Regions from separate parts of the Homo sapiens genome. Here all the other regions are reported to be linked to region 4. The links are microRNA targets in miRTarBase. Many come from high-throughput screens and were not tested one by one. Region 4 holds a microRNA gene; each other region holds the end of a gene's coding sequence.
The links. Region 4 holds the annotated microRNA hsa-miR-6854-5p (AAGCUCAGGUUUGAGAACUGCUGA, at 3,238-3,261, opposite strand). A microRNA usually pairs through its seed, bases 2 to 8, with sites in the 3' UTR of a target mRNA and lowers its output. Matches are read on the target gene's strand: a 7mer-m8 pairs with bases 2 to 8, a 7mer-A1 pairs with bases 2 to 7 and ends in A, and an 8mer does both.

Region 1: the mRNA of TSPYL1 is a reported target of hsa-miR-6854-5p. The part of its 3' UTR that is shown has no 7-base or 8-base seed match.
Region 2: the mRNA of POLDIP2 is a reported target of hsa-miR-6854-5p. Seed matches in the 3' UTR shown: 7mer-m8 at 3,293-3,299.
Region 3: miRTarBase lists ZNF841 as a target of hsa-miR-6854-5p. The part of its 3' UTR that is shown has no 7-base or 8-base seed match.

Annotation. Positions count from the first base shown.
Region 1 is chr6:116,273,687-116,278,834 of GRCh38, forward strand. It overlaps TSPYL1 (TSPY like 1), which reads right to left. Exons shown (of 1, transcript NM_003309.4): 1 at 1,172-5,148. The coding sequence ends at 4,831. It also overlaps a transcript of DSE not described here. Among named protein-coding and RNA genes, the nearest start is that of TSPYL1, 3.7 kb to the right of the region's middle.
Region 2 is chr17:28,344,026-28,349,173 of GRCh38, forward strand. It overlaps POLDIP2 (DNA polymerase delta interacting protein 2), which reads right to left. Exons shown (of 11, transcript NM_015584.5): 10 at 5,058-5,137; 11 at 2,608-4,206. The coding sequence ends at 4,092. It overlaps TNFAIP1 (TNF alpha induced protein 1), which reads left to right. Exons shown (of 7, transcript NM_021137.5): 7 at 339-2,984. The coding sequence ends at 575. LOC124903963 (a long non-coding RNA gene) reads left to right here and starts at 4,205. Exons shown (of 2, transcript XR_007065687.1): 1 at 4,205-4,304; 2 at 5,008-5,148. RefSeq lists enhancers at 163-666, 1,170-1,673.
Region 3 is chr19:52,060,770-52,065,915 of GRCh38, forward strand. It overlaps ZNF841 (zinc finger protein 841), which reads right to left. Exons shown (of 7, transcript NM_001136499.2): 7 at 3,696-5,146. The coding sequence ends at 4,338. It also overlaps the pseudogene LOC100419835. Among named protein-coding and RNA genes, the nearest start is that of ZNF432, 15 kb to the left of the region's middle. RefSeq lists an enhancer at 4,245-5,146.
Region 4 is chr9:98,225,952-98,231,099 of GRCh38, forward strand. It overlaps MIR6854 (microRNA 6854), which reads right to left and starts at 3,266; the gene lies at 3,198-3,266. It overlaps TBC1D2 (TBC1 domain family member 2), which reads right to left. Exons shown (of 13, transcript NM_001267571.2): 5 at 3,001-3,197.

The DNA of each region.
Region 1 (5,148 bases), not on the chromosome of region 4:
CGGTACCCCCCTCAATGAGCCTGAGTTCCTCAAGGGCAAAGACAACCTTTACTATCCCATTCAATCCTTACTTATGCTAGTATTCAATAAACAACTACTGCAAGATTACAATTACAGACCACTAATTTTCAAAAAGTATGTTTTTTTGTTTTTTTTTTTTTTTGAGACGAAGTCTCTCTTGTCCCCAGGCTGGAGTGCCATGGCTCAATCTTGGCTCACTGCAGCCTCCACCTCTTGGGTTCAAGCGATTCTCCTGCCTCAGCCTCCCGAGTAGCTGGAATTACAGGCGCCTGCCACCACACCCAGCTAATTTTTGTAATTTTAGTAGAGACGGGGTTTCACCATGTTGGCCAGGCTGGTCTCGAACTCCTGACCTCAGGTGATCCAGCCGCCTCGGCCTCCCAAAGTGCTGGGATTTCAGGCGTGAGCCACCCTGCCCGGCTGCTTTTTCAAGTAGTACGCGTTCATTGAACTGACTTAATGCAGAGCTAGACTCAGATATTTTCCTTTTCTGTTGCTAGCCAACTGTTAAAATACGACTGAAAATATTTTCTGAACATCATGTACATTTGTAAACTAAAAATAGAGCATTTGGCCGGGCACAGTGGCTCACGCCTGTAATCCCAGCATTTTGGGAGGCCGAGGCAGGCACATCGCCTGAGGTCGGGAGTTTGAGACCAGCGTGACCAACATGGAGAAACCCCATCTCTCTACCAAAAACACAAAATTAGCCGGGCGTGGTGGCGCATGCCTATAATCCCAGCTACTGGGGAGGCTGAGGCAGGAGAATCGCTTGAACCCAGGAGGCAGAGGTTGCGGTGAGCGGAAGCTTGCCATGAGCCGAGATGGTGCCATTGCACTCCAGCCTGAGCAACAAGAGCAAAACTCTGTCTCAAAAAAAAAAAAAAGAGCATTTTACTTTAGAAAATATGCATATATTGGTCTTAAAAGTCACTAAAAATTAAACCAATATAACTGTGTCAATTTGGCATCAAAATCTACCCTGCCTATATCAAGAAAGTGTTGCACAGTACATTTTGCAAAATATTCAGTGCATCTTAAGTACTCAAGAACAGTTCATTAAAGAAATTTTACTCACCTTCTTTTTACCCATTGGCCTTGAATTTAAGCAAGATAACCCTTATCTTAGTCACAAGAAGCTTCAGGAGGAGAAAGTATTAACATGTTTAATTTTTACAGATATTTTATATGCTTTCAGATATTCCTCAGGAAGTCGAGACATGCTGTCCTATGTAATTTTAGATTTACTAGTAGCCACATTAAACAATGGCAAAATGAGGATAATTAATTTTTCAATATATTTTAACACAATGTCAAAAATATTTCAACATGCAATCAATATGAAAAAAATTGAGATATTTTAACATTTTTCTTTCCATACTGAGTCTTCAAAATCCAGTGTGAATTTTATATTTATAGATCTCAATTCAGACTAGCCACATTTCAAGTGCTCAATAGCCACTGGTGGCTAAAAGTTACTGTATTGGACAACACACATCTAGAGTCTAACCCCCTTCTATCTCCAGTATAATCACCTTAAAATGTACAAAGTATATAAAAGGTAACCCAAAATTAAGTAGTGCTCTGTTAAAATGCAAGTGAAAGATTTAATGTTGAAAGTGTTTAGACGTTTTCTAATGACTAAAAGGGGAAATAGTTATTTAGGAATGGCATTGCAAATCTTTTTGACATTTTCCCATTTGCTCATTAAATCTTTCTGAGAACTAGGTTATTTTGTTCTTTTTCCTCCATCTGAGTTTTGTCATTCAATATTTATCTGCTGACAACTATGCAAAACATTATGCTAGATGGGCTGGGTGCGGTGGCTCACGCCTGTAATCCCAGCACTTTGGGAGGCTGAGGTGGGCTGATCACGAGGTCAGGAGATGGAGACCATCCTGGCTAACATGGTGAAACCCCATCTCTACTAAAAATACAAAAAATTAGCCGGGCGTGGTAGCACGTGCCTGTAGTCCCAGCTACTCGGGAGGCTGATGCTGGAGAACTGCTTGAAACCGGGAGGCGGAAGTTGCAGTGAGCCGAGATCGCGCCACTTGCGCTCCAGCCTGGGCAAGAGTGGGACTCTATCTCAAAAAAAAAAAAAAAAAATGCTAGATGCAATGAACCATGTAAAATGCACTGCATCTCCACTTTCACAAAGTTTCCAAACTACTGAGAGGAAAAGAGTGAACATGGGAAAAACATGAAAATATAATCTCTGTATTTTATTTTACTGTATCACTCTGTTAATTCTTTGTTTGCTTATCAGTCCTTCCCCAGTTCCCCAAAGAAGGGAATGGACTTTATCTTCTTACTCTTTTTCTCTATTTGTGGAATTCACTGTAATGAATAATTATGTTAATTTTCTAGAACAGAGGTCCCTCCAAAGTACACTAAGTGCATAAAGAAACATTTATCTCCTCTATGGGGAACAGAAAGACTTTGGCAGAGGAATTACCAAGGGCAGGCCTTGAAGGATTTGACAGAAGAGAACAGTGAGGAAGTTTAAAGAAAAAAAGGAAGTTTTTACAGATGAGAAAGTATGAAAATAGAGGAGTACATCACATATGATAGGTACTCCCTGCATACAAGTTAATAAAAAGAAGAGCCTGAATAACCTGAGAATATAATTTATGGAGACAGAAATGGAGGATTTGAGCAACTGAAGGGGAGGTTGTGCTGCATAAACTACATGGAAAAAAGTGATTGAGTAAGCAGTTGCAACTGCTAACGTTTTAAGGCAAACTACCTTGGAAGGTACCAAACATACCGTGCCCTGCTTTCTTCTCTTTGGGATAATGTCTATTGTGTCCATTTAAGGACTTTAATGATTCTGTAATTTTTAGTTAACATCAATTTAAGGACTTTAATGATTTTAATCCATTAAGAACTTTAATGATTTTAATCCATTAAGAACTTTAATGGATTAAAGGACTTTAATGATTCCATAATTTTTAATTAATATGAACAACTTCATTCAAGCATTACATTTATGGGTAAGGTGAAAAATAAGAAATCTAGCAGAACAACATGCTTTTATTTTACCATCATGCATAAAAAGGAAGACAAATATGCCAATGGTACACTTCCAATTTGTCAGAGCAATTTCACAGTATTTAAGCAATTTAGGAAAAAAGATATATCACTTACTAAGTTGTTACCAGGGAAAATTATCATGTAAGACAATCAATTAAACCATACTTTTGTAGATTATTTTTCCATGAAGGCAATTTGACAAGCCTAACAAAGACCAAGTTGTTCAAACTATGTTTCTAGGAATATAGTTTAACAGAAACAAGAACAAGTTGAAAACTGTTATGACTATTCATATGTCTCTATATTGTACAGGCAAGTAAGACTGTTGTTCTTCCAAATGTTCCCAATTGAAATCAAAAGAATATCTGTACAGCTCAATTTTCACAATAAGTTTAGAATCAGAAAAAAAAATTTTACTAAATCCTAATGAAATAACAATCTTCCACATAAATTAGGTCACAAAACAAGTAAGAAAGCATTCAAAGTTGCGCTGTCTTTCTTTAAAGAACCCTTGTCTAGGCAACATATTTAACACTTTAACCCCTTCAATTCTCCCTGAAAAGTATTTTTCCATTCATCATCATTGGGGAGTAAGTACTCCTTCCTCGAAAGCTCTTAACGACAGCACAGTCTTCACTCTAGGCCCAATTTTTACCTGGCCCATGCCTCTAGCCTTTTGTTCAGTTTCTCCTGCTTAGGGCACCTTTCATCCCATCTAGATGTGTCTCTCTTTAACTATTCTAGGAGTTGATAAAAGGGCTAGGAAGTAGGAAGTTGGGAAGAAGGGGAGGGGCGTAAGAGCTCTAGCACTCTATTTTACAGGCCAACTTCTTTGCCTCTGAAAATGACAGAGCCAAAATGAAATAAAAACCTTGCTTTTACAAATGTTTCTGAGCTATCACTTTTTTAAGAGAGGATTGGGAGGCTAAGGAGGGCGGATCACGAGATCGGGGTTCGAGACCAGCCTGGCCAGCATGGTGAAACCCCGTCTCTACTAAAAATATAAAAATTAGCCGGGCGTGGCGGCGCGCGCCTGTAGTCCCAGCTACTCGGGAGGCTGAGGCAGGAGAATCGCTTGAACCCGGGAGGTGGAGGTTGCAGTGAGCCGAGATCGCGCCACTGCACTCCAACCTGGGCGACAGAGCAAGACTCCGTCCTCCGTCTCAAAAAAAAAAAAAAAAAAAAAAAAAAGGAAAACAGGGAGAGAGAGGGACCTTGGCAGGAGCCAATGTAGGGCAGGTAGCAATAGAAAGTGACTAGAGGTGAAGGAAGAGCAATGAAGTACCATAAATCACACAGAACAAGTGGCTCACTGCTTTTCTCCTCTGAGTTCATTAACGTCCAGTAACTGTCCACAGGGCATGTGCCCATACTGCTCAATGCAGAGCTGAGTAGGTGGAACAGGCTCCCAAAGCTAGAAATCCAAGTGACAGCAACCAGTTCAGAGGCCCTGGGAATAAACAGGGTCCAAGCAGTGCAGATAAAGGCAGTACAATCTACAGTATCATTTGCTTGGCTTACAAGTAGTGTGAAGGATGACCTCGTAGCATGTGATATTCCAGAACAGCATGAAGGTCATATGGAAGTGGAGAAGCATACCCACCACCGTCTCAATCTTGAGGTTGAGAGAACTGAATATCCAAAGGAAACAGGGTGCAGAAAAGTCAGCAAAAACAAAGCACAATAGAAGGCATACTCATTGCTGATGCCCAAGCACAGGTCCAGCAGAAGGTGGTAGGAGACCTTGTGCAGGAGTATTCCCAAGGGCAAATGTTAACCAGACTGGAACCCAAAGGGCCTGGGGATCTCTACAGGCTCCCTTAGCGGGCGACGTCGGGCTCTACGGACTCCTTCACGCAACAGGTAGTATTGCAGTGGATTTGGCCACAGATCCTCTTTAATAATCTCAGCAATTTTGTCGGACTCTGGAAGGCTGTGGTCTGAAAACCAAGTGAAGAAGCTGCAGATGAGGTCTTGGTTTCTGCGAATGAAGGACTGGGGTTCATGCCCCCTGCGCCATATAATTGGAGTAGAAAGAGACACCACTCGGCCGGAGGATCTTACCTCATATTCCTTGACAATCAGCTTGTT
Region 2 (5,148 bases), not on the chromosome of region 4:
GAGCTGCAGCCCAGAAGGGTTCAGCCCAAGGCTCCACAGCTAGCAAGTGGTAGAGCTGTGTTGGGACCTAGCTCTGGCCCACCCTCTATGCCCACTAGTCCCTTGGTCTCAGGCTGGGGCAGGGGTGTGGAGGATGTTGGTCTTCCCTGTCCTCATGTCTGTAGAGTACATCCCCTCACCCCGCCTTCGGAGGGAGGCTGGCTTTCCCTGGAGACGGACCGCCACCTGTTTTATGAGAGGTAGCGGAGGCCTTATGGAGCCTCAGGGCCAGCCGCTCTGACGCATGGCTTCCTCTTGAAGATGAAACCTTGCTCCACCTTCTTCCTCCCTAACCCCAGGTGGAATTCCCAGAGGCCCGAATCTATGAGGAGACACTCAACGTCCTACTCTATGAGACTCCCCGCGTCCCCGACAACTCCTTGTTGGAGGCCACAAGCCGTAGCCGCAGCCAGGCTTCCCCCAGTGAAGATGAGGAGACCTTTGAACTGCGGGACCGTGTCCGCCGCATCCACGTCAAGCGCTACAGCACTTACGATGACCGGCAGCTCGGCCACCAGTCTACCCATCGCGACTGACCAGACCCTCAGGGAGTCAGGGCACGGGAGGCCCTATCTCCCATCCTGTGGAACCCGCCCCATTGGCCACCCCATGCTGCTGCTGCCTGGGTCTCTGCTCTAGCACCCAGAGGCATGACAGGCCCTGCTCAGAGGTCAGAGGGTCTGGGCAGAGGAGGGACCACATTCCCCTGCCTTGCCCCTGAGCACTTCTGGAGACTGCGTCCTGTCCTATCTGCTCACCATCACCCTTCCTGCCCGACGGAGCTGCTTCTGCTCCCTGGGGCATATGGACTGACCCACCTCCTGCTGAGAACCTTCCCCTAGGCCCTGTGCAGAAGGCTACTGCCCCTTAGGCCTCAGCTGGGGGAAAGGCAGTTCTGGTGCTGTAGAGGCCCTGGTGCAGAAAGTGGGACGTCTTTTTTCCTAAGGTGTTTAAGCACAGGCTTGATAAGTTTGGTTTTTAAAAAATAATCTAGGAAATGAATAATTCTAAATCTAGTAATGAGGAAACTGAGCATTTCTTTTGCCCTCCAGGGTGCCAAGACCCTACATATGACAGAACCCTTGGCCCTTCTCCATGCCTGTGGGATCTGTTTCTTTAAAGCACTTTGTACTGTTATTCAGGAGGTTGATAATCTCCTTGACCCATGTCTTTCTACCCTAATCCCCACTTCCCTGCAGAATCAATCTGAGGGAGGGGATAAAGAGGAAGCAATAAAAAAAAAACATCCGACAGAGCAGCTCTGGCTTTGCAGCCTGGCCAGCAGCTCAGAGTGCACCGAGGAGGGAAGGATGGCTAAGCTGGGACCGGCAGTCCTCACAGGGTGCCTGTGAGAAAGGACATTTTACCCCCACATCATAGTCACATCACTGACTCCTAGGTCTAGCACGACTGCTCTTTGTGATTCTCTTGAGTACCCTTGGCTTCCAGCCATGCTGTCCTCACATACGGTAAAGCCAAAGAGCTGTCACATGGGCCAGAAACATGAGCCACGGCAGGAAGACCGTGGAGCCCGTGGGCACTGCATGGTGTTGGCTGGCATGCCCATCAGCTGAGGACAGCAAACTCCCAGCAGCCCCTACAGAGGTGGCACATGCTTGGCCACACATCTACTCCCTGCCCACACCATCTATGCTCTTGGTTGGTGCTGGCTGGGATGGCGGTTCTGCCCAGTGGTGTCTCTGAGCGCGGGATGACAGGAGCAACCGAAGCACCCTGAAGGCCTTCACTCCTTGTTGGGTAACTCAGCCATGGAGATGCCAAGCACTAGCCAGGAGGTGAGTTCCTCTTTAGGGCTTTGGTTTTCATTCCTTTTTGTTTGGCTTGGCCAAACCAGAATTCAGCTTATCTGAATTATTTTCCAAAGGAATGCTGTCAGGGAGGGACTGTTCTGCCAGCCTAACAAAGCAACGTAGCCACGTATAGTACCCACTTTCTGCTCTTTGGAGAGAACACAGGTTATCAAGTTCATCTCTCTTGACTACTCTTATGATAGCTGATGCCACAGAGCCTATGGGCAAATGCCAGACCCAGGGTTAGACACAAGGACCTGAAGTGACATGACGGCGGGACAGGGGAAATGTGACTTTCTAATTAGGCATTTTATGTTAGTCACAGTCTTGAATGTATAAACAGCACTAAGACTCTCAGGTCAGGTACCTTGGTGATCAGCTACTAGTTCTTCCAGCCCTCATTGAGGTAACAAGATAAAGACAAATCCACTTCTTTGGCCAAATTCAGGCTTTGGCTTTATGACTTTCCCACAGAGACTGGAATGCGTCAGCCTGAGACCACTGGCCTATTTTCTCAGCTGCCCTCTTGAGGTCCTTTAACACTCAAATTCCCAGCTCCCCACTGAGGTGTTGTGATGCTTGCCTTTTGACCTCCCCATCCCCTTTAGTCCCTGCTTACTACTTTGACATTCACATCCTCAGTGTCTCAGTCTTTTTTGCCGAGAAAGCACAGTAGTCTGGGACTGGGCATTTATCTTCTCTGACTGAAAATCTCTCCTTGGTCTTAAGGAAAATACTAACATTGAACTCACTGACATGATCTTAGCTTCTTTAATCAGACTTTGTGACTTAAAAGTTTGGGGGTTTTCTTTGAAAGTTTCCAGCCCTATTCAGAAAGCAACTCTTGGCTGTGTGCATTTTTCAACTCCAAGCAGCCCAGGGGTAAGTAAACAAAGTATGGATGAAGGTCAGATTTTCTTGTCAGTTTCTGAGAAACCTGGCAGCCTGCTGTTAACAACACAGGCCAGTATTGGGTTTTATTGAATTTGGTATGTGACCAAGGTCGGCCTAAAGGATGGCGCAGGTCCTGGGCAGGAAAGAATTTTTCCTTTATCACATAACTGTAATATTTGGTTGCTCAGCATAAGTGATGGAAGCAAACACTAATTTCTAATAAAATTGTGTTAAACTCAATGGTACAGAGCCATGTTTACAGTGAGCAGGCCTTGACCAGCTTGCGGCCATGGGCTGAGTTCCTGTGCTTCTGTTTATCATCTGACCTTGTGTTCTAGCCAGGTCGTAAGCGCGACTGTACTGTTGCCCTGCAACCCCAGCTCCCCCTGGAGGACTAAGGACAAGAATAACAAGGGCTGGAACTGTGATTTAATATTAATTCAAGAAAACTACCTCTAACAATCACTGCAGTGGCGGAGGAAAAGAAATCCTAAGAATTGGGGCAAGATGCAGCACAATTCATCTCTGGCTCTTGGAAATCTGAGAGAAGCTCAGGAAGTAGCTTGACTTAGTCATCAATCCATACCTAAAGCTGCTCCTCAGCCAAATTCCTGCATTTGTGGTCTGGATGCTTGGCAGAGTCATGCTGAGGGCTGGCACACCCATTGCTCCAGGAAACCCGACTGGCTTGCCTCCCTCCTCTCCTGGGCCTAGCGAGGCCAGAAATGGCAATGGTCGGTCAGTGCTAAGAGCCAGGCCACTCCGACCCTGACACTGGCCTCCCTCTCTGCATTTGGCAGAAGGTAAAGTGAACAAGAGTCCAGTCCAGCACCCCCGCCAACTAGCTGAGAGGCACAGTGACCCTAGGAGATGTCCAGCCAGCCTCCAGGCTGAGAGGGAAACAGGCACATGCCCTACCAGGGGGGCAGCTCCCTGGAAGGGCAGCAAAGAAAGCAGTCAAGGGCGCACACTGGGTCAGAAGGGGAGCCTGAGACTCTGGGAGCAGAAATGGCAAGGGTGGCCAAGCGTGCACTGGTTTACTGATCAAACCTCACGTGACAGGCCAGGAAACTCCTCCAGGCCTGTGGCAGCTGAACACAGTTCCTTGGTGGAGAGGTTTACTGGAACATGGTGTAGGCAGGGCTTATGAGGAGGCCAGCCTTGGAGGTGTCCCACATGGGTCTTCTGAAGAAAAGTTATACCACCCCTCCCCACAAAAAGAACCCCACAATCAAATTAAGAGACCCACTGTGGCCCATGATGGGGAGAGAAGAGTTCTGCAGCAATTGTGGGATGAGAGTTGTTCTTCCCGGTGACCAAGCCTGGGCACTTGGGGCCTCAGCTGGCCTACCAGTGAAGGCCTGAGGGTGGTGTCTTCTCATCTTTATTGCTTTCCAGGGAGAAGGGAGGAATCCGAACATCAAAGTGGGAGCCATCAGGTCTTTCAAAGCGGAACGTGCCCCTACAGTCAGAAAGAAGCTGGTTTAGAAGGAGCCAGGGCTGAGGCCTCCTAAGGATCTGGATGGCCCCATGCCCTCAGCTGCCAGCCACAGAGGACATGTGAGCCTGAGCTCTCTTCTATCTCTAGCTCATGACAGGATGACTGGTCCAGAGACCCAAGAGCCCCTCATGGTTATCCATGAAAAGAAAAACACAGCTGCAGTGGCTCACGCCTGAAATCCCAGCATTTTGGGAGGCTGATGCCAGCAGATCACCTGAGGTCACCTGAGGTGGGGAGTTTGAGACCAGCCTGACCAACATGGAGAAACCCCGTCTCCACTAAAAATACAAAATTAGCCGGGCGTGGTGGCGCATGCCTGTAATCCCAGCTACTCGGGAGGCTGAGGCAAGAGAATGGCTTGAACCTGGGAGGCGGAGGTTGCAGTGAGCCAAGATTGTGCCATTGCACTCCAGCCTGGGCAATAAGTGAAACTCCATCTCACAAAAGAAAAAAGGAAAACACAGCTGTCCAGATTCTGGCCTTTAGATACATACTGCATAAGCTAGCCAACTGCATTTTCAGGTAAAGGAGTGAAACACCAAGGGAAAAAACCCAACTATACAAGCAATTCTGCAGCATCAAATCACCAGACCTCTTTAGCCTAAGTCCTCAGTCCACAAATCACAGGGTACTGGGAAACAGGCGGTAATAGAAAATCAGACAAGTCCCACACAACAATATAGCAGATAAGGCTCCCTCTAAGAATGTAACTTGGCCCAGAGTTAATGGCAAGCTCTAAGCTCTCACTTTTCTGACCTACAGCTTCTGTTTGTGGAGCTGGGTGGCCCCTACTGCTGTGCACACTCACTCACCACATGTGCCCACTGGAAGCCTGCAGCGAGACGTGGCTGCTATACTGGAACGCAGGCTGCTCCTTGGATAACACTGGTTCCTGTAAAGGTT
Region 3 (5,146 bases), not on the chromosome of region 4:
AACTCACAGGTTTCAGGTGACTTATGCTGCTTTTATTTATGCTAAATTCTTCCCTTCTCCCACCCAACTGGCAAAGGACAGAAAACCCACCTAGCTATGCACAAAAGGTTACACAAGTCAGAGGGTCCGGGCATGTGGTCTGTGTGGTGCATGGTGGTGGAGGGAATTCATGAAAAGGAATTTATTATTGCCTAAGTTGAGAGCGTTAAAGGGTTGTTTTAAGTGAGATAGAAAAACTTTAAGTCAGGTCCTCAGTGATGGAGGGAACCATTCCAAAGTGGTGCCAGCACCCATCTAAGGTCAGAGATGTCTGACAGACTAAGTTGGGGCCCTAAAGGGGGGATGCCCCAGGTAAAATTTGGGTCACCTAATGAGCCCTCCACTTTTCAAAGTCCTCTTCTCTTTTCCAAACCACTATGGGCAACTCTCCACCTATTCCACCTGATTCCACACTTGGCTACATCCTCAACCATGGAAATCAATTTGACCCTGACACTCTAAAGATAAAATGTAAAATTTTTTTTGCACTATTGTCTGCCCCCATTATGAACTGCCCAGCCTGGAACAATGGGCAGTCTTGGTAGCCTTAATTATGACACCATCCTGCCATTAGACCTATTTTGCAAGAGGCAGGGCAAATGGTCAGAAATCCCATATGCACAGGATTTTATGACCTTATACCAAAACCTAGCAATCTGTCAAACTCCCAGAACCCACCCCCACCACCAAAGGAAAGTTCTAAGGTAGAATTAGATATTATAGATGATCCCCCCCACTCTTACTTTTTCTTTTTTGAGACAGAGTTTTGCTCTCATCGCCCAGGCTGGAGTGCAATGGCTTGATCTCCGCTCACTGCAACCTCCACCTCCCAGGTTCAAGCAATTCTCCTGCCTCAGCCTCCCAGGTGGCTGGGATTACAGGCACACACCACCATGCCCATCTAATTTTGTATTTTTAGTAGAGACGGGGTTTCTCCATGTTGGTCAGGCTGGTCTCGAACTCCCGACCTCAGGTGATCTGCCCAGCTCGGCCTCCCAAAGTGCTGGGATTACAGGCGTGAGCCACCGTGCCAAACCAGATGACCCCCTTTTACAAGAGCCACTTGTCTCTAAGGGTGAAGAGCGACCATCCCTATAGCCCCCTTACCAAGTGCTCCTGAGGCTAAAACCAGGAGCAAACACTGGGGACCCTACTAAGTCCCCCAAACACTCAGTGGGGAACACCATATTCTACTCTCCCTCCAGCCTTGCTACCCCGTAGGGAAGCAGCAGGAGCCGAATGGCCAGTCCTATTGCAGGTCCCCTTCTCTATAACTGATATACAGCAATGTAAGGAAAAGCTAGGAAGCTACTCTAAAAATCCTAGGAAATTTGCAGAAGGGTTCCAAAAGTTGACCTTATTACTATTGCACTCCAGCCTGGGCAACAGGGTGGTGACATGATAATAATGTCAATTTACAAAGATGATTTGAGAATCTTGTCTGTATGCACTTAAAACCAGCTGCAAAACATGTGAAGCAACAAGTGACAGAAGTGAAAAGAATGTACAAATCTAGGTGGAGCACAGATTTTTAGGTTAGTGAAACATACTCCGTATGTTTCCCATATCCCAAAGCAACACTGTATTTGTCAAAGGACACTCTGAACACAACAAGCTCAGTGACTTACATTGTAAATTTACATCATTCTCCACCATATTCCATGCTGCTTAACTCACACAGTACAGTGACCTTAATCTTCCAGAAAACATGGATATGAAGGAACCACACCTAATGAAGCAGGCCCTCTCACCTTACTGATTTATTCCCAGAGACCACAATGAAAGATGTGTAGGAAAGGCAAGACTTCATACTTTAGGATGAAGGTCACAAATAGTCAACTAGCCTTTTTAAGAAATGTCAAAGTGAATACAATTATTTTATATACTGAATTGGCCATTTCCACACACGCTCTTGATCCTTTGATGTACATATTACCTGGGGTTTTAACAAATTTTGTCTTGTGGTTATTTTACCGTATGTATCATTCCAGGTCAATCCTGGATGGAGAAGCAGACTTAGTTATCCATAGTATGATTTACCTAACATGGAATCTGTTGAGAAATTTTTTTTTTTTTTTTTTTTTTGAGACGGAGTCTTGCTCTGTCGCCCAGGCTGGAGTGCAGTGGTGCAATCTCGGCTCACTGCAAGCTCAGCCTCCCGGGTTCAAACAATTCTCATGCCTCAGCCTCCTAAGTAGCTGGGACTGCAGGCACGTGCCACCACGCCTGGCTAATTATTTGTATTTTTAGTAGAGACGGGGTTTCACCGTGTTAGCCAGGATGGTCTCGATTTCCTGACCTCGTGATCTGCCTGCCTCGGCCTCCCAAAGTGCTGGGATTACAGGCGTGAGCCACCGCATCTGGCTGAGAAATGGTTTAAAATTTTACCACGTTAATTACATTTGCAAGGTTTCTATCCAGTATGAATAATTTGGTAAAGCCTGAAGACACACTACTGATTAAAGGTCCTTCCATGTTAAGCACACTGATATGACTTTTTTCCTGTATAAATTCTCTCAAACTCCAAAAACATGAACATTTGATTTTTTTATTTTTTTGAGACAGAGTCTCACTCTTGTCACCCAGGCTGGAGTACAATGGCGCAATCTCGGCTTACAGCAACCTCCACATCCTGGATTCAAGTGATTCTTCTGCCTCAGCCTCCCAAGTAGCGGGATTACAGGTGCCCACCACTGCCCAGCTAATTTTTGTATTTTTTAGTAGAGATGGGGTTTCACCATGCTGGCCAGGCCGGTCTCAAACTCCTGACATCAGATGATCCACCCACCTCGGCCTCCCAAAGTGCTGGGATTACAGGTGTGAGCCACCATACCCAGCCCATTTGATTTTTAAAAAGGCTTACCACATTCGTTACATTTGTAAGACTGTTCTCCAGTATGAATACTCTGATGTTTCCATTTGGATGTTCGGGTAAAAAGTCTTAGCACACACATTACATTTGTCAAAGATGTATATTCTGAGGTCTAGTGAGTTCAGACACCTCGGGGAAGCCTCTAGCACATACATTTATACGATTTCTTTCCAATATAAACTCTCAAGTAGTGACTGAACTCTGGTGAAGCTTCTGCCACCCTCATTTCATTTGTAAAGCATATCTGCACTTTGAGTTATAGATCCACAAGTTTTGACCTTTAAGTAGTATTCTTGCCACATATACTACACTTCTGTGATTTCTCTCCAGGATGTATATTCTTATGCCTAGTGAACACTTGCTTAAAACTTAGCTATATTCTGGCCGGGCGCAGTGGCTCACGCCTGTAATCCCAGCACTTTGGGAGGCCGAGGCGGGTGGATCATGAGGTCAGGAGATCGAGACCATCCTGGCTAACAAGGTGAAACCCCGTCTCTACTAAAAATACAAAAAAAATTAGCCGGGCGCGGTGGCGAGCGCCTGTAGTCCCAGCTACTCGGGAGGCTGAGGCAGGAGAATGGCGTGAACCCAGGAAGCAGAGCTTGCAGTGAGCCGAGATTGCGCCACTGCAGTCCGCAGTCCCGCCTGGGCGACAGAGCGAGACTCCGTCTCCAAAAAAAAAAAAAAAAAAAAAAAAAAAAAAAAAAAACTTAGCTATATTCACTCCATGTGTAAATATATTAGGCCATAATTGCATGGCTAGACAGAAATACCTGAGGCTAGGTAATGTATAAAGAGGTTTAATTGACTCACAATTTTGCAGGCTTTATAGGAAACATGGCGCTGACGTCTGTTCACCCTCTCGGGAAACCTGAGGAAGGTTAAAATGATGGTGGGAGGTGAAGGGCATGTCACATGGCCAGAAGAACAAACAAGAGGGAGGTGCCATTCACTTTCGTGCGTGCGTGTGCGTGATGGAGTCTCACTCTGTCACCCAGGCTAGAGTGCAGTGGCGCGATCTCGGCTCACTGCAACCTCCGCCTCCAGGGTTCAAGCAATTCTCCTGACTCAGCCTCTCGAGTAGCTGGTACTACCAGTACCCGCCACGAAGCCCAGCTAATTTTTGTATTTTTGGCAGAAACAGGGTTTCACCATGTTGGCCAGGCTGCTCTTGAACTCCTGACCTCAAGTGATCCGCCCACCTCAGCCTCCCAAAGTGCTGGGATTACAGGCATGAGCCAGACCTCATGAGAACTATCACAAGGACAGCAACAAGGGGATGGTACTAAAACTTTCTTGAGAAAGCCACCCCCATCATCCAATCACCTCCCACTAGGCTCCACCTCCAATACTGGAGATTACTACAATTCCACATGAGACTTCAAAGGGAAAGGACAAATATACAAGCTATATGAGTAAGTATAAATTATTTGGGGATCCCAGAGGTTAGGACAACATCTAACGGCCTTTCCACATTGAGTTTAGTTGTAAGGTTCTCTCCAGCATGTTTTATCTGATGTTTAGTGAGGCCTGAGCGACTAATGTAAGATTTGCCACACTCATTACATTTATAAGGTTTTTCACTAGAATGAATTCGTTGGTGTTTAGTGAGGCAAGACCGCCGCCCAAACGCCTTGCCACATTCCATACATTTGTATGGCTTCTCTCCAGTATGGTTTCTCTGATGGTAAACCAAGTTTGACCTTTCGATAAAAGCTTTACCACATTCATTACATTTATAAGGTTTCTCTCCAGTATGCATCATCTGATGATTAAGCAGAATTGAACGTACTCTAAAGGCTTTGCCACACTCATTACATTTGTAAGGTTTCTCTCCAGTATGAATACTCCAATGACGTGCGAGGCCTGAGCGATAACGGAAGACCTTGCCACATTCATTACATTTGTAAGGTTTCTCTCCAGTATGAATTCTCCGATGCCTTGCCAGGGTTGTAGTGGAGTTAAAGACTTTCCCACATTCAATACATTTGTATGGCATCTCTCCAGTATGTCTTCTCTGATGGTACACCAGACTTGTTTTATGACTAAAAGTTCTACCACATTCACTACATTTGTGTGGTTTCTCCCCAGTAGGATTTCTGTGATATCTTGCAAGTTTTGAACTTTGGATAAAAGCCTCACCAAATTCATTACAGTGGTAAGGGTTCTCTCCAGTATGAATTACCAGATGTTTAGTGAGGCTTGAACGCTGAGTATAGGCTTTGCCACAATCAT
Region 4 (5,148 bases):
GAGGTGCCTTCCCACTAAAGAAACACAGGAAGGTACCTCGCAGGGGTAGCTCCTGGGATTCCAGGTGCCCATCTTCCCAGCTGATGAATGGGACTCTAATGAGGGTCTCAGATGGACAGCGGCTCTCCTAGCGGCATTCTGAGTGCCTGGGGGCACCACTGGGCACCCAGAAGTTGTGCTGGCTTTTTCTGTCTCACCTCTTTGGTTTCAGTATCTGGGCTACAGGTGAAACCCTAGAGTTACGGGGCTGCCATTCCTCCCTTCCTAATGTGGAATGAAGACCTAAGCTCCCTGATCACTGCTATGGCCCCACGGCACATTTCCTGAAGGCACTGATGGGCTCTCACTTCCCGCCTCGTCTCTGAGCCCCTCAGCAGGGCACCTCACTGCTTGTAGGGCAGGAAGAGATTGACATGGAGGGTAAGGAGGGCTGCAGTAATCGCCAGAACAACCAGAGCCTGCATCTGTTGGGCAGCTGCTGGGTGCCAGGTACTGGGCTTTATGAATCTGGGCACAGGTCTCTCCAGTAAACACGGCTGCAACTCCATTTACAGAAGAGGAAACTGAGGCTTAGATAGGTTAAGAAACTTGCTTAGGGCCAGAATTTGAGCCTGTGCTGTCTTATTTAAAGGCTGGTTCTTTGAATCACCCTGAAGACTGAAGTTCATTTGTGGAATGGGTTGGAGAGTAAACAAATCCACTCCTATTGCACAATAATTGGATAAACTAAATAAATCACAACTCATTCTCCTTTTGACCCTCTGTCCCAGGACACAAAGTCGAGGTTTGGTGGAAGGTTACCTGGTAGAAAAAAAATCCAGATTCTTCAATGCATCAACAACTTCCTCCTGACAATTTCCCTCTGAATATATGGGAGTTGTCAATAGCCTGGTCAACCCTTATTAATCTCCAAGAATCTTGCCTTTATTTATTGAAGAATGATGAGTCCTCCAGAGATGCAGAGCAATCAGGGGCAAACTTTCATGAAATCTAGGTTTCCTGGGGCCTTTCTACTTCATCTGACAATTTGTAATGTCTTAGAAAGAAAGGCTGTGTCAAGAGAGGCTGCCCGTATATTCAGGATTTCTTTTTCTTTCCAGGTTTGGGTTTCGGATTTAAGCTCTACTAGTCCAGGGATCAAGTAGCTGCTATGGCTCTGTTTCATGCCCTCTCAGCTCTCAGGAGCGTCCAGCAGCCTCAGAACTGGAGCACCATGATGACAGGAGGAAAAGACAGCTGGGCTGCTAAGCAGCAGCAGAGGGGACCTCACGTGTTATAACTACACATTTGGGTGTTGCTTTGTTTAATGTCTGTCTCTGCCATGAAATGCAAGCTGTAAGGGCAGAGCCTGTGTCTTTTGCTCATTGTTCTTTCCCAGCACCTGGAACACTGCATGCACATAACAGGCCCTTAATAAAAATTTGGTGAATAAACACATGAGTTAAGAACGTATGAATAAATGAGCCCCCTCCTTTGAGAACTCTAATGTCTAATCACCAGTTGCTTCACTAAATGTAACTCCTGGCCAGGCACGGTGGCTCACGCCTGTAATCCCAGCACTTTGGGAGGCTGAGGTGGGCAGATCACTTGAGGTCAGGAGTTCGAAACCAGCCTTGCCAACATGGTGAAACCTAGTCTCTAATAAAAATACTAAAAACAAAAACCAAAAAACAAAAAAAAATTAGCTGGGCATGGTGGCAGGTGCTTGTAATCCCAGCTACTTGGGAGGCTGAGGCAGGAGAATCGCTTGAACCCGGGAGGCAGAGGTTGCAGTGAGCCAAGACTGCACCACTGCACTCCAGCCTGGGTGACAGAATGAGACTCTGTCTCAAAAAAAAAAAAAAAAAAGTAACTTCTGACATGCCAGGAATGAAGCCTCTGCCGGTTCCCCTGAGATCTGCTGACAGTGGTCACTGCTTAGGGGCAGAAAAGGCAGACGAGGGGCCAAACTAGGTATAGGGAGAGCATTTTTTCTAGATTTCTTCCCACCAAAATAGGGCAGAAAAGAAAAGAAGAAATGTACAAGTTATAAGAAATATTCAGAAGGTAATAGGGCATAAGCCCCACCTCCCCAGCCTAAGTCCTCTGGAGTCAGGGCTGGAAAACAAAGCAGAAAGGGCCTCCGGGCAGCCAAAGTTCAAACACAAAAGCTTAGGCCTTCCTCTAGAGGAAAAGGAGTCTGGGCCCTCACTGGAGCCCGCCACTGCCACCACAGGTCCTACCAGGCCCCACCGTTGGGATTTATGTAACAACTGCCTAACTTAGTCGCTTTTATCACTCTAAAGAGGGGCTCCCGCCCGGAGCTGCAGCCCTCTCACATCTTTGCCCTGGGACCCTCACTACTTCATAAGGTAGCCCCTGGCTTTTAATACCATTTACTCTCTGGGATGTAGGATTTTGGAGTAGTTTTAATGTCTGTGTGTATGAGATCTGTTTTCTACAATTATTATATAGCTCTTGTAACTCTCGTAATTAACTTCTTACCATATTAAGCCCAAATATTCCTTTCACTGTTTCTGTGTTGGTCCTGGCTTAGCCCTGGGCCACACACATGCTGCTTGTTTGCTTTCTCCTGTGACAGTCTTGTGACGGTCATTCAGATATCTGTGCCCAGATATCGGCTGCCAGGTCAAAGTTCCCCCCAGTTCTATCGACAGCCCCTCCCATGACCCTGCATCCAGATCACCTGCCTCTAAATAATGTCATTTTCTGGGTAGGGGGTGAGACCATGCATGGCCCTCCAGGAGGGGTCCAAGAGACAGTTATTAGAGTAGATCTCCAGAGATACCTGCCCTTGGTGCCCTTTTGTGACTTACTTTGAGTGACATCAGGTTCTTGAGTAATCAACAGCATATTTCAACATTCTGCAGTTTGGCCTTTAAAGACCAGAGAGTAGCTGGTGCCCAGCACGGCTAATGCGTCCCATCTAGCTTATCCGAAAGGCTCCAGGAACTGGAGGGGTCCACTGGAACCTGGGGCCTCCCTGGGACCAGACCTCACCTTCTGAGACTTTAACTCCTTGGTGAGCATCAGAACCTGTTGCTCCAAGGCTGCCACTTTCTCCTGGGCAGTTCGGTTCCGTGTGATTCCTTCAGAAAAGAATGGGAAGGTGTTGTTCTGGCGCTTGGCTTTCTGAGCGAAACTGATGGTCAGAGAAGGCTTGGGTGCAGGCTTTGGAGAATCCTCTGGCTCTCTCCCTGCTCAAGAGGAGAAACGCAGAAGTTATGACTGATGACATCAGCAGTTCTCAAACCTGAGCTTGCTTTAGAAGCACCTGGAGGGCTTGTTAAAATGCGGATGGTTGGGCCCTAATTTCGGAGCTCTGGATTTAATAGGTCTGGGGCAGGGCTTGAGAATATGCACTTCTAAAAAGTTCCTAGGTGATGCTGACACAGCTTGTCCAGGGGTTAGACTGTGAGAACCACTGGCCTACATAAACGTTATTGCACTGTGCTGGCCCATCTGCTAAACTGTGCCTGTCTCCTTCCTTCAGATCCCACCCAGCCTGCATTGGTCTATCTCATGCCACCCTGCTGGTGTTTGCCAAGTGGCTTTCTCCTCAGGCACAAGCCCTGGCAGGATGTTCTGTTCCTTATTTCAGGATCCCACCTCTATGTACTAGGAGATTTTCAAAGCACACAGATCTGTCTGATGATAGGAACACAAAATGAATGTCTGTACTCTGCATTCTTGCTCCAGAGAGCAGCTCAAGCATTTAACTTGATTCTTCTTATTCCAAGCTAAGTTAAGAGATATATTTCCCCCACAGTTGATTGTCTCAAGGATGCATAGTCCTTTTATCTCCTGGGTTACAACCTATGGTTCACAGGCCAAATCCAGCCCACAGCCTGCTTTTACAAATAAAGCTTTATTAGAACACGGCCATGCCCATTTGTTTATGTGCTGTCTATTGCTGCTTTTACTCCTCAAAGGCAGAACTGAGTGCTTAAAACAGAAACCCTATGGCCCACAAAGCCTCGAATCGTTACTATCTTGCTCTTTACAAAAAATGTTTGCCACCCACTGTTTTTAAGTCATCAAAATTTTATTCTTAAATCAAACCAAACATCAGAGAATCATTCCCTTGTGTTGCCTTGTCCTGCCCTGACCCAGCTGTGCTTCTGGTCTCTGCCATCAGCCTGCATCAAGGGACATTTAAGGGCCTGACTATGTAGCCAAGGGCCCTTGAGAAGCTTGTTCACATGGGATATATACATCATGCCTATTATGAGTCCCCAGCAGAAGAAATTCCCTTCAGCCCTAGGAACTTCCAAGAAAAGCTTTGCTTCTTATAAGAAAATATGTTTTTAGTCTTATGGACACTGGAAATAATCTAGCTGCTTGCATTTCCCTCTTTGCCTTGGCTGCTGAGCTTACAGCCACATTTACTGCCTACTCTCAGATATTTTGTAGGATCGTAAATTGATCTTATCTAAATCTCCTAACCAAATTACTCATTTGCAGGAGTATGCATTTTAGTAAACTATTACCTATTTCTTGGGACTAAAGTGTTAAAGGTGTTGAAAATAAGAATGTGGTATGGCATCCCAGGATAGGGGACACGCAGGGCTTTGGGGATAGGCCAAATGACTTAGCATGAGACCAGGCCAAGGGCTGGCCAAACAGTCTTGAACAAATAAAGAGTTACTCCAGTAGGTGACAGGAACCAGACACTGAGTGCAAAAACAGTACCTTGCTCGGCCGGGCGTGGTGGCTCACGCCTGTAATCCTAGGACTTTGGGAGGCTGAGGCGGGTAGATCACTTGAAGTCAGGAGTTCGAGACCACCCGGCCAACATGGTGAAACCCCGTTTCTACTAAAAATACAAAAATTAGCCAGAAATCACTTGAACCCGGGAGGCAGAGGTTGTAGTGAGCCGAGATCATGCCAGTGCGCTTTAGCCTGGGCAACAGAGCGAGACTCTGACTCAAAACAAACGAACAAAACAACAGTGCCTTGCTGAGTGCAAAACCAGAACAGTCTTGTTCCAGATCGAAGAGAAATCAGGTTACACTGGGTACAAGGCAGCCTGCAGAGCTCAGAAATATGTACTACCTCTTTCTCCTTCCTGTAATGGGGTATAGGGGAGCAGGGAAGCTCCTTGTAGCACTGCTGCCCTCTGATACATGACTGTGCACCAACTCTGAG